Regions from separate parts of the Homo sapiens genome. Here all the other regions are reported to be linked to region 3. The links are microRNA targets in miRTarBase. Many come from high-throughput screens and were not tested one by one. Region 3 holds a microRNA gene; each other region holds the end of a gene's coding sequence.

What was found. Region 3 holds the annotated microRNA hsa-miR-1304-3p (UCUCACUGUAGCCUCGAACCCC, at 1,818-1,839, shown strand). A microRNA usually pairs through its seed, bases 2 to 8, with sites in the 3' UTR of a target mRNA and lowers its output. Matches are read on the target gene's strand: a 7mer-m8 pairs with bases 2 to 8, a 7mer-A1 pairs with bases 2 to 7 and ends in A, and an 8mer does both.
Region 1: miRTarBase lists BTBD19 as a target of hsa-miR-1304-3p. Seed matches in the 3' UTR shown: 7mer-m8 at 660-666.
Region 2: the mRNA of LUC7L2 is a reported target of hsa-miR-1304-3p. Seed matches in the 3' UTR shown: 7mer-m8 at 668-674.
Region 4: the mRNA of LRRC8B is a reported target of hsa-miR-1304-3p. Seed matches in the 3' UTR shown: 7mer-m8 at 2,467-2,473.

The regions. Positions count from the first base shown.
Region 1 is chr1:44,813,224-44,816,303 of GRCh38, forward strand. BTBD19 (BTB domain containing 19) reads left to right here. Exons shown (of 8, transcript NM_001136537.3): 6 at 1-46; 7 at 151-276; 8 at 415-2,362. The coding sequence ends at 549. Among named protein-coding and RNA genes, the nearest start is that of BTBD19, 6.2 kb to the left of the region's middle. RefSeq lists a silencer at 696-765.
Region 2 is chr7:139,421,754-139,424,833 of GRCh38, forward strand. It overlaps LUC7L2 (LUC7 like 2, pre-mRNA splicing factor), which reads left to right. Exons shown (of 10, transcript NM_016019.5): 10 at 410-1,701. The coding sequence ends at 587. FMC1-LUC7L2 (FMC1-LUC7L2 readthrough) reads left to right here. Exons shown (of 11, transcript NM_001244584.3): 11 at 410-1,701. The coding sequence ends at 587. LOC100129148 (a long non-coding RNA gene) reads right to left here. Exons shown (of 3, transcript NR_033999.1): 2 at 1,532-1,632. Among named protein-coding and RNA genes, the nearest start is that of KLRG2, 60 kb to the right of the region's middle.
Region 3 is chr11:93,732,450-93,735,529 of GRCh38, reverse strand. It overlaps MIR1304 (microRNA 1304), which reads left to right and starts at 1,766; the gene lies at 1,766-1,856. SNORA8 (small nucleolar RNA, H/ACA box 8) reads left to right here and starts at 3,031; the gene lies at 3,031-3,080. SNORD5 (small nucleolar RNA, C/D box 5) reads left to right here and starts at 2,230; the gene lies at 2,230-2,302. It overlaps SNORA18 (small nucleolar RNA, H/ACA box 18), which reads left to right and starts at 1,933; the gene lies at 1,933-2,064. It also overlaps SNORA40 and a transcript of TAF1D not described here.
Region 4 is chr1:89,592,710-89,595,789 of GRCh38, reverse strand. LRRC8B (leucine rich repeat containing 8 VRAC subunit B) reads right to left here. Exons shown (of 6, transcript NM_001369817.2): 6 at 1-3,019. The coding sequence ends at 2,747. Among named protein-coding and RNA genes, the nearest start is that of LRRC8C-DT, 39 kb to the left of the region's middle.

The DNA of each region.
Region 1 (3,080 bases), not on the chromosome of region 3:
GGCTGAACTGGTCCGCGCGGCCCGAAGCTGGGCGCGCGTGGGCGCGGTGAGTGGGGCTGGGGGAGCGCAAGGGCACGGAAGGAGGTGCTGGCCACGAGACTGGTGAGCGGGCGGCAGGACAGGTGCCCGACTCAGGGCTGGCGTTTGCAGGCGGTGCTGGAGCGGCCGGTGGCTGAGGTGGCGGCCCCGGTGGTGAAAGAGCTGAGACTAGCCTTGCTGGCCCCGGCGGAGCTGAGCGCCCTGGAAGAGCAGAACCGGCAGGAACCACTCATCCCGGTGGGGACGCGGGGAACCGGCCCAGCTCCACTCAGCAGGGGGTACAGGGCGCTGGGAGGGGGCAGGAGCAGCCCGGCCCACGGTCCTCGGGGCGAGGGGCCACCGCGGGACTGCGCACTAACTGGCCTTGCTCTGCAGGTGGAGCAGATTGTGGAGGCGTGGAAATGCCATGCCCTGCGGAGAGGGGATGAGGCCCGGGGCGCCCCGTGTCGCCGCCGGAGAGGCACCCTGCCCCGGGAGCATCACCGCTTTCTGGACCTGTCCTTCAAATGATCCAACGCCGGGACTCGCAGGGAGCCCTCGACCCGCCCAGCTGAGCCTGCCCCAAACTACAGCTCCCGAAGTGCTCGGCGTTCGGAGCGGGCTTCCGTTCCCAGCGTGCCCAGTGAGCCGGGCGCCGGAAGAACCGTTGTCTGCCACGCGCAGCCCCTTGTGCGGGATCAAGCCCGTGTGGGCGAGGTGGGGTCGGGCCGGGCAGGGCTTGGGCTGGGCCTCCCTGAGGGGGTGAAACTCGAAAACGAGGATTTCCTTCGTTCCACACCCTGACTCTACGCCCTGCCCCTGGGCATTGTCGTCTACTAGTCTATTCTGATGACTCCCACATATCTATCTGTTCAGCTCAGCTCCCTCTTTCTTTTCTTTTTCTTTCTCTTTCTTTCTTTCTTTCTTTCTTTCTTTCTTTCTTTCTTTCTTTCTTTCTTTCTTTCTTTCTTTTTCTTTCTTTCTCTTTCCTTCCTTCCTTCCTTCCTTCCTTCTTTCTTTCTCTTTCTCTATCTCTTTCTTTCTTTCTTTCTTTCTCTCCTCTCTCTTTTTTTTGAGACGGAGTCTCGCACTCTCGCCCAGGCCGGAGGGCAGTGGTGCCATCTCGGCTCACTGCAAGCTCCGCCTCCCGGGTTCACGCCGTTCTCCTGCCTCAGCCTCCGGAGTAGCTGGTACTACAGGCGCCCATCACCACGCCCGGCTAATTTTTTTGAATTTTTAGTAGAGACGGAGTTTCACCGTATTAGCCAGGATGGTCTCGATCTCCTGACCTTGTGATCCGCCCGCCTCGGCCTTTTTTTTTTTTTTTTTGAGACAGAGTCTTGCTCTGTCGTCGAGGCTGGAGTGTAGTGGTGCGATTTCGGCTCACTTCAAACTCCGCCTCCCGGGTTCAAGCGATTCTCGTGCCTCAGCCTCCTGAGTAGCTGGGATTACAGACATGCACCACAACGCCCGGCTAATTGTTGTATTTTTAGTAGAGACGGGGGTTTCACCATGTTGGCCAGGTTGGTCTCGAACTCCTGACTTCATGTGATCCGCCAGCCTCGGCCTCCCAAAGTGCTGGGATTACAGGTGTGCGCCACCATGCCCGGCCTCAGCTCCTTCTTTCATTCCAGACCTGCCCCCCTGGAGATCGCTCCCTGAATGCCCCTCAGACACCACAGGCTCGGCGAGAAATTGATCTCCCCAGCTTTTCCCCAGCTCTGCCCCCATCGTGTTTCTCATTTCCGTGGACACCCACGCCAGAAACCTGGATCTCATCCTTGCCTTATCGCTCTTCACACCTGCCTTAGGTCTCTTTTTACCTTGTAAGAGACCTTAAGAGACCTTTCCAGTTGGTTCAGTTCTCTCAGCCCCAGGTTCAACCTGTCCTGTCTGACACGTCTCACAGCCTTCCTGCCTTCACTCCAGCGCCCCCTCAATCCATTTCCCACAGTGCAGCCAGACCTGTTTTTGATTGTCAGTCCTATGGGGCTTAAGTCCTGGAACATCCCATTGACCTCCAGGACAAAATTCAATCTATTTCACTTTCAGGGCACTCAAAACTACTAGTGAGTGGTTCCTCACCTCTTCTCTCAAATACAATCTTTGTATAAATTCATTTATCCTGGAGGTATTAGTCCTCTAGCTCCATACCTTACTCAGTTACTGCAGACCCCTCTGCTACCTCCTTCATTCACTATACATCTTGTTTTCCCGAGGATGTGAATCTCCCTCAAGAAAGATCCCTGGGGCCTGGAGTGGTGTCTTACTCGTTTCTGCTTCCTCAGTCTCTGTCAGATAATCAGTGCTATGTAAATGTTAAGTAAATGACTTTATTTATTTATTTATGACACAACCTTATTCTCACCCAGGCTGGAGTGCAGTGGTGCAATCTCGGCTCACTGCAGCCTCAGCCTCCCAGGCTCAAGTGATCTTCCCACTTCAGCCTGCTGAATAGCTGGGACTACAGGCATGTTCCATCACATTCGGCTAACTTTTTTTTTTCTTTTTGTAGAGATGAGGTCTCCCTACGTTGCCCGGGCTGTTCTCAAACTCCTGGGCTCAAGCAATGGTCCCACTCCGTCCTCCCAAAGTGCTGGGATTACAGGCATGAAGCACCACCACACCCAGCCTATTTCCTCATTTAAATGCCACTTTATTCCATGAAGAGTTTTAAAGGAGCTGCAAAGCAAGATACTGTCAATCTAAAATGAGAGACAGTTGACTATTTAGAAGAAAATAAAGTTAGATTTCTATCTCAGGGACTTCATACAAAAATATATTGTACAGGAGGCCAGGCACCGTGGCTCACGCCTGTAATCCTAGAACTTTGCGAGGCCGAGGTGGGTGGTTCGCCTGAGCTCAGGAGTTCGGGATCAGCCTGGGCAACATGGCAAAACCCTGTCTCTAAAATACAAAAAACTAGCCAGGTGTGGTGGCACATGCCCGTAATCCCAGCTACTTGGGAGGCTGAGGCACGAGAATTGCTTGAATCTGGGAGGCGGAGGTTGCAGTGAGCTGAGATTGTGCTACTGCACTCAGCCTAGGCAACAGAGTGAGAC
Region 2 (3,080 bases), not on the chromosome of region 3:
GACCTGCAGTACCCCAGATAGTCACCATCTGGCCCCTATTCTAAGCCATTTAAAATTTAGATAATACATTTCTTTCACTTTTTAAAGCTGTTATCTATGTATTATTTTTTATATTAAAATACCTTTTATGAATTGGAGAAACTCTGTGTTGTCTCTGAGATGAGAGTAGCCTGTAAGAAATTATTTTAGCCTTCTGACCCTCTGCTATTTGTTTTTCACCCATCTTCTTGTTTTAATGCCCTTATCAACTATGGTAGTGCTCTGTAATTTGTCAGAAAACTGACTCCTCTGTCATGGGTATATTCGTCTATATATCTTCAGCTATCAAGAGCTTAATATTTATCCTATTCTTTAATTTGGGTTTTTGGGTTTCCCAACATATTTTGCTCCTCAAATTAATATTTTTCAGATCCTCAAAAGAAAGATTCAGAGACCAAGACTTAGCATCATGTGACAGAGACAGGAGTTCAAGAGACAGATCACCTCGTGACAGAGATCGGAAAGATAAGAAGCGGTCCTATGAGAGTGCTAATGGCAGATCAGAAGACAGGAGGAGCTCTGAAGAGCGCGAAGCAGGGGAGATCTAACTAGCTGTGTACATTTCTTCAGTCCTTAAGCTTCCTACGGAGTTACGTACTATTGTTTAGTTCACAGCTGTTCAGGGTGACAGTGAGCAGATCCAGACACCAGATCCAGCTAGGCTAGATGTACAGTATCTAACTTGATCTGAACTGAACCTGTTTTCCTTGATGATGCCTAAAACTACATCCATAGTTTCTGGTGAACCTGTAATACAGTTCTGAAAGTACAGTTTTATATAATAAGATGCTGATCTCTTTATTCTTTCAAGTAAGAGTGCTAGTGAACAAATTGTGTTACTTGCCTTGGGATTTTTTGAACGTTTGTAAAATGCTGTCTTCCTAGTCCAAACAGCTGCAGCTTTGGGCATTTTTCTTTTTAATTATTCTTCCTCTGACTTTGTATCCCTTAATACCTACACTCTCCAATTGTAAGAGAAAGGGGGCAGGGAAGCAATATAGCTTCCATTCTAAGGCTGTATTCCCGTTATGAATTACTAGCTGATTACAGTTCAGAGCATTGATCCTGGAATGTGTGCTGGAGAAATTTAAAATACTGGGGTTTTTTGTTTAATGGTGCCTATTTAGAGTTGGAAGTTGAACAGCTGTTGCATTACATACTTTTGCTTTTTTATTGAAATTTTGAAATCAAACGTCTTGATTTTTCTGTTCTGTTGAATTGCTATGTTCAGGATGTTCTAGGGGGTGGGGGCAGGGACTCTTTTCGTAATAAGCACTTGTTTTATTTTGTGTGTGTGGAGTATAAAGGCTACACCCTTATTGTAAAAAAATAATAATAATAAAATGAAAGAAACAATCACCACCACCATTATTAAACTGTAACTTGTCTAGTAAATTGTCACTAGAACTATTTGCTGTGGGCATTTCCTCTATTCTGTTACGTCATTAACAGTGCCTTACTGTGCAAGGCACCAAAGGACATAAATACGTACTTGCAAAGATTCCAGATGAGCTGTTCATGTGGGCCCCTTGCTGACTATATTCCAGCCACTTCAGGGTTGTTTGTAATGACCGTTATAGAGAAGGGCTCGACCTGCAGAAGAAACTGGGGTGTTTTTATTCTCATTCAACAAACCCAAATAAAAACAGTATATGTAACCAACATAATGAGACTTAAGTTTCTGCCTTGAAGAGTTGTATATCCGTTAGTAACTTAAACTGTAATTGGCAGGTATCACTTGTGATTCTGGAAATTCTGAGGAACACAGATTCCTTAAGTAATGAAATTAGTATCTGTGGGTATCATTAACTAAGGTCACCTTTCAAGAACTGTTAATGTCCTTTGTCCCCAAGTTTGACAGATTTGATGTCAGAGGCATGTGGGCCTCTGTGAAGGTGCTGAGAGAATGGGAAACTAAGGCCATTCTAAGTGATACCAGATTACGTTAAAAACCCTCATCAAGTTCCCAATTTACCAAGCTATGCCTCATTAACTGAGGGTTTTCTGCTGTATTTGGTTCCACACATGCAATTTATATGGCATTTAATCTGAGAGACCCATCTGCCTCAGTGGCCCATTTCCCTTTTATTTTTGGTTGCTAAGAAATGTTTTGTATCTCCTTTGTTCCGGGTAGTCTGTGCTGTTCTAAATCCTTACAAGCACTTCAGATTTCGTACATTGGGGTTCGGAGTAAGATCAAAAGGACTAGCTGGTTGGTGTGAGGAAGAATGTCTGGGACCTGGCCCATTATAATAGTATATCTGGACTTAGATTTTGAACTCTAAAGCATATGTACAGTTGGAATGGAACACTTGTAGAAGTAACACAGGTCTATATATCAATGGTTACTGCAGCTGTGGTTTCTAGATGGTATAGGCTGCCCCAACATGAACAGGGCATAAAGCGCACCATCACTGTGGGGCTGCGTGCCACAGCGGACCACTTCAACCGCATGGCTCTTTACATGATTGATGCCACTGAATTAGAATAAAATCTCAAATCTTAATATCACTTTCTCATACACAATTTTTGGTCTTTCTGTGTTGGTGACTGGTAGAAAGCATAAGTAAGTATATTGTATTTGCAAAAAACTTTTGTCCCTCTGGGGAGTGTTTTGCTAAGTTTTTACCTTCAGTAAGGTTTCCTTCATTTTGCTGTCATCAAGTATTACCCTAAAGCTCCTTTGCTGAGCTTATCAACACCAACTAAAACTAAGGAAAAAAGCCTCCTTAAATAGGTATGTTTTTTATTTTTTTGAGACGGAGTTTCACTCTTGTTGCCCAGGCTGGAGTGCAATGGTGCAATCTCAGCTCACTGCAACTTCCGCCTCCTGGGTTCAAGCAATTCTTCTGCCTCAGCCTCCCGAGTAGCTGGGATTATAGACGTGCACCACCACGTCCGGCTAATTTTTGTATTTTTAGTAGAGACGGGGTTTCGCCGTGTTGCCCAGGCTGGTCTTGAACTGCTGGCCTCAGGTGATAGGCCCGCCTCGGCCTCCCAAAGTGCTGGGAGTATAAGGCATGAGCAACCCCTCCCTGCCC
Region 3 (3,080 bases):
CCAGCTAGTTTTTGTTTTTTTAGTAGAGACAGGCTTTCACCATGGTCTCGAACTCCTGACCTCAGGCGATCCGCCTGCCTTGGCCTCCCAAAATGCTGGGATTATAGGTGTGAGCCATGGCACCTGGCCTAATACTACTTTTAACTACCATTTTCACTTTTTATTAGTTCAAGAAAAGGCATACACATTTATTCAACATGTATACCTGGGGAGAACCAGTCATTACCCCGATGTTCATTATTTTGATCACCACGATAGAGCTGACTACTCTGCTATGTAGTGCATTTTGGGACTGCACTTATGTATGTTTTTGTTTAACGTGGACAAAGACTTACAGATAGGTGCAAAAAATAAATCCTCTTTTGCAACCCAGAACTCATTGTTCAGTATGAGTTTTGATACATATAAGAAGGGATATTATGATACCTGAGACAGTTGATTGATGGGAGTATTGATAGCCATAAAGGTTGGTTCCAGGCCAGGTGCAATGGGTCAAGCCTGCAATCCCCACACCAAGGTGGGAGTATTGCTTGAAACCAGGAGTTCAAGACCAGCCTAGGCAAGAAAGTAAGAAACACATCTCCACAAAAATTTAAAAATTAGCTGGGTACTGGGGCATGTGCCTGTAGTTGGAGTTACTCAGAAAGGGGGGAGGCTGAGGCAGAGTTGGAGGCTGCACTGAGCTTTGATGGCACCACTGTACTCCAGCCTGAGTAACAAAGACAGACCCTGTCTCTTAAGAAAAAAAGGTTGATTCCAGGCCTGTAGAATAGATAAACAGCATGGGATATGAGGGAAATCCTCAGCAGTATTAATTTTGCATTCCAATTTCATGTTGATGATATACACAATGGCTTTTTGTTTTAAAGGCTTTTATCTTGAGAACATGGTGTCTGGAGTTAAAGGTATGTCTCAATTTGAGTTTTCACATCATATTTGTTTATGTGTAGGAAACAGTATGTTGTCAGAGCAAGTTTCATTTTATTCAGGGACATTTCTACCATGCTTTTAATTCCCATTTATACTGATTTCTGAAAAGAAGAATCCTAGATTCACACATTTTATAGTGATGTGTCAGATTCATTTTAGTTGCAAGCATTAGAGGGTCCTGAATTTGTTAGTTTGTAGCAATAATCAGAACTTTGGATTTCCTACTTGAAGCCTACAGCATTATTTTGAATTAATGCACAATCTAAAATGAGGCAGAGGATTTTATGGTTTAATGCAAAATATAGTATAATAAAAGATGATTACACAGGTCATAAGAATTCATAAATTTGAATGATGTAGAGTTTGATTAAAAGTTATATAATGCCAAAGTCGTAACTTACAGGCACATTATATTCCTGTATTTTATAATGGATGACAATTAATTTTGAGCCAAGAATTAAAATTTGCTGAAATCTTCGAATTGGGAAAACAACATCCTCTGTTGCAATACTGAAGTTCATAACAACAGTTAGACTTTAAACTTAAATCTTAAGTTTAAATCTTTTTCCTTTGGTTCATGTAAAGGAGCTACTTGATGTTACTTTTTATTTATCATTCCTCTGGCTCCTAAGCACAACGTGATTGTGAAATTATTGTTTTTGTGATTAACGTAGTAGGAAGTTTCTGCAGTTGGCAATATTGTAAGAGCATATTGCAGTTTCTGCTCATAATTTCTTTCCTATGGAGTGTTAGACTTTGTTATTTATGTGTATAAATACTAGCTGGACACAGTGGTGCCTGTGGTCCCCAGCTACTCTGGAGGCTAAGGCAGGAGAAACACTTGAGCCCAGCGGTTTGAGGCTACAGTGAGATGTGATCCTGCCACATCTCACTGTAGCCTCGAACCCCTGGGCTCAAGTGATTCAGCAAGAATCACACGATTTTTAAAAGACATGGCAGATCCTGTGTCTTTAAAAAAAAATCAAAACCTTGTAAATAGTGGTTGAGGTCTATCCCGATGGGGCTTTTCCTGTAGCCTGCACATCGTTGGAAACGCCTCATAGAGTAACTCTGTGGTTTTACTTTACTCACAGGACTATTGTTAGATCTGTGGGAAGGAATTACAAGACAGTTGCTAAAAGTTTGAAAAAGACGGTTGCTAAACGTTATGAAAAACCAGATAATCTACTTTTTTACCTTAGGTATTGGCATACTCCACACATCTGTACCATTCTTGAGTGATCGCTTAGGTAAGTTTTAATTGGTGACAGTATAATCTTTTGGGAAATAATGATTACAGTTCAGATGATGAATTTAACTGTTCAACTGCTGAATGATAACGGGCATGAACTAAAACTTAATTCTGACAGAGCTGGATATGGCTGTATAATAAACTGGATCTTAAATTTATACTTGGGTTTTAGTTTTAATAACTGGAAATGTATCCTTTCTAAATCTTTAATTGGTACTTTCTATAGGAATGAATGTGATTTGAACTCATTCATGTTGAGAGGTAAGTAAAATATTTAACTTATAATAATCAAGGACTCAAAAGATGAAAAATAGAAATTACACCATCCCAGTATTTCAGGTATAACACAGAATTAGTAAGATACTGGCAAAAATATTACAATGTATATATTTGTATAGAGAAGGAAAATGAAGAGACTGCATGTCTATACCTACCAAACGAAACTACCTGTGTTCTTTGCATCATTATTCAACTGGCAGTTACACATATTTCATCCTAAAGTCACGTAAACCTGTGTGGATATGTTGAATCAATAGGGATATGAATTACATAAAAAGAATTTTGTGTAACTGGCAGTTTGAGCAACAATGAGCTTGACGTTTGTTGTCTGATCTGTTAAGTTACATGTATATATTCCATCTTTAAGTTTTATAGAGAGACTGGGCAAAGATTAGGCAAAGACTAGAGTTGTAGCTTAAAATGTAGTTAATGTAGCTTCCTTATTACAGTGACAATTAGGAAAAAAGCTCAAATTATTGTACTTGTTAAAGGAATTTGAGAGGTTTGTGAAAGCATTTCTCAGCAATATTGCAAATTTGGGAATACGAGTTGTACAGTTCAGTCATAATTGCACTGCATGGTATCTGCACTCAGCAGTTTACACCTGCTAGGGTGTTCA
Region 4 (3,080 bases), not on the chromosome of region 3:
TGCTCCAACAGTACAGTAAAGGTGGTATTAACACCCTATTTTTTATGTGAAGTAGTAGCCTCATTTTTCCTTGCATCAGGGCTACCTTGTCTCAAAAGCGACCTAAACACTGGTGTATAAGGTTTAAATTAAAAGATGTAAAACCATGGCATCAAGAACAACATAGATTGCACCAATAATTATACCCTAGTGTGTGGAAAGCAGTTTATAATATTCATTATTAATCCTGCTAGTAAATTCTTCTAGAAATTTACGTAGGTGATAAGGAAAATTTAGCCAATGACTTCTGCAGTTGAACCAAACCAGTGACGAGCCATGGAGAAGTTCGTCAGGTGAATGGTAGCAAATCTGAATTTTGTTTTGAAATTCTAGCTAGTTATGTGGCCAAAAACATTTAAGCACTTTTGGCATATTCATGTCCAAAACTTAATCACATGCCACACTGGAATCAGTATACATGATAATTCTATTGTGAAACACTAAAATAAACATCAACTCACACTTTAAAAAATGAAAATAACAACGAAAAACATGGATATAATTAGAATCTGTTTTCTGAAGTCCTAGAAGTTTCATCAGTTATACCTGCTTCCCTGAGAGCTGAATGTTCTGACTAAAGGCAAGTTTTGGTAAGTAGTTTATTTTTACACTGTTCCTTTCCGTTCAGAATAAACAATAATGTGTGAGGCAGTGTGTTTGGTGTCCTATATTCCTGATAGCTAATATTATTCAAATTTCATTTGATTTGAATAATTCTTTTCTTTGAACTTTAGTGCAGGAGTGTGTGGCAGGTGAGGGGAAGCTCTATTTGCTATGCTTTAAAGACTCACTTTCATCTTTCTGGAACAAAGCAAGAGAAAACACATACCACGCACCACAATTCCATATACACAGTACTGTTTACCTATAGTGTTTTCCAGTTTTGTGTAGGTGCAGTTAATAGATTTCTTCATAGTTATATCCAAAATGAAGAGGTGGCATCATAATGCCTAGACCCTTAGGGAAAAACATATTAAAGATGTACATTTCCCAAAAATGAGTCAGTTGATTTTATTCATTAAAAATATGCATAATAAAAGGCCAAGCACAAAGCTCTTTATAAAAAGGAGCAAAATGTATTTTCCAGAAGAGTTAGATAAAGGCATGAGATGAATTTCAGTTAAATGGATCTATTTCTTTGTGGGTTTTGAGAACTCATTTTAGACACTGAATAGAGGCTGTTTTACATTATAATCATAGCTAGAGATTACATAGATGGAGGGAAAAAAAGTCTTTTGCTTTAACTCTTACTAAATTTCTATAAAGTATTTTAAAATCAATTTAAAAACCAAATCTGTACCTCTCCCCTCTATCACAGTTTTTGTAAGTAATTAAGAATTTTACCCGTACGATTGCACAGCAACTATGGAAGAGAGAGGTAGATGATTCGGCCACCCTCTCACAAGGAAACCCCCAAATACTTTAGGGCATTAAACACAAGGCTTTTGTTATCCAAAAGTAATTAGTTGCAGAGTACAAAAACATTTTGGAGCAGAATGTACATAAACATGAGTCATAAACAGCCGAAACCAAGAACACTAACAGTAAGTTCATAAAGAAATGCACAAATTCTATGTATCTTACAAAAATGATCCTCACAGATGTTGAATCCAAGATTATACAATAGAAAATATTTATATGTTTTACATTTAATATAAAAATTCTTAACAAATAAAAAAAGGCCTTGATGATAGACAAGAAGAAATTTTAGGGAATACATTAATTTTCAGGATGCCCCGAGGATAATACATCTTAAATACTCAGCTCCTGTTCTAGGCAAAGGCCAAATGCAGGCATTTTCTCAGGGTTCATCATTGGTGTTAAGAGAAAACCAGGTTAAGGAAGACTCAAGCAAGCTGGGAAAGGAAGTAAAAATTAAGCCAAAAAAGAATTCTGCCAAGCACAACATACCCTATCTAAAAAAATTTAGGAACATAAATCAAAGACAGTCGTGAGTATACATCAAGAAAATTCATATTGATGAGTTTATGGTCTTGGTGATAAATATCAAAACAGGAAGTCAGTTAAAACAAGTGTGCAAATAAGTAATGGGGACTGGGGGAAGAAGAGGAGAGAATACCTATACAATCTTGAAGGTAAACACTGCAAGGAGGAATTTAGTCATTTCATAGCTCCCAGTCCACCCTGGATGTGCATTTCTTGCAACATCTCAATAAGTTAAAGAACAGTTATTCACAAAACTTCAGGTTAGTGTTAACAGTTTTTACCTGGTTAATTTAGGGCTAGACACTCAGTTGCTTTAATAAGACATTTAGTTATGGTTCATCATAATAGTCACCCATTCTTCATCTTTATTAACTTAGAAAATTTTACTTCTCATTTAAAGCCCTGGAGCATTTTTTTTTTTTTTTTGAGATAAGAGTCTTGCTCTGTCACCCAGGCTGGTGTACAGTGGCACAATCTCGGCTCACTGCAACCTCCACCTCCCTGGTTCAAGCAATTCCCCTGCGTCAGCCTCCCAAGTAGCTGGGATTACAGGCGCACGCCACCACGCCTGGCTAATTTTTTTGTAGTTTTAGCAGAGATGGGGTTTCACCAGGTTGGCCAGACTGGTCTCGAACTCCTGACCTCAAGCAATCCGCCCATCTTGGCCTCCCAAAGTGCTGGGATTATAGGCATGAGCCACCACGCCCGGCCGAGCATACTTTTAAAAATGATTTTGAAACACGGGTCTCTTTTCTTTAAGTCAACATTTGTCTAAGCACGTCTGTAAACGTTCTGTTACAGGGAGAGGAAGAGTATTGAGCAAGTTCTCCTCAACAATCAGACAGTTCCGTTTTAGGGACTGACATCCTTCTAGTTCAGGAGGAAGTGTTTCCAGGTAATTACCAATGAGCTCCAGATGAGTAAGGTTTGACAGCTCACCCACATGAGGGGACAAATTCATCAAGCTATTTTTCCCCAAAAGTAAACACTGCAGCTTTTTGCACTGAAACAGCCCATCTGGTAGCATCTCAATCTGGAAAGGGAAGAAAAAAGAAGCTGGTAAAATAGGTTTTTGGTGGCTTATGATAAGACAT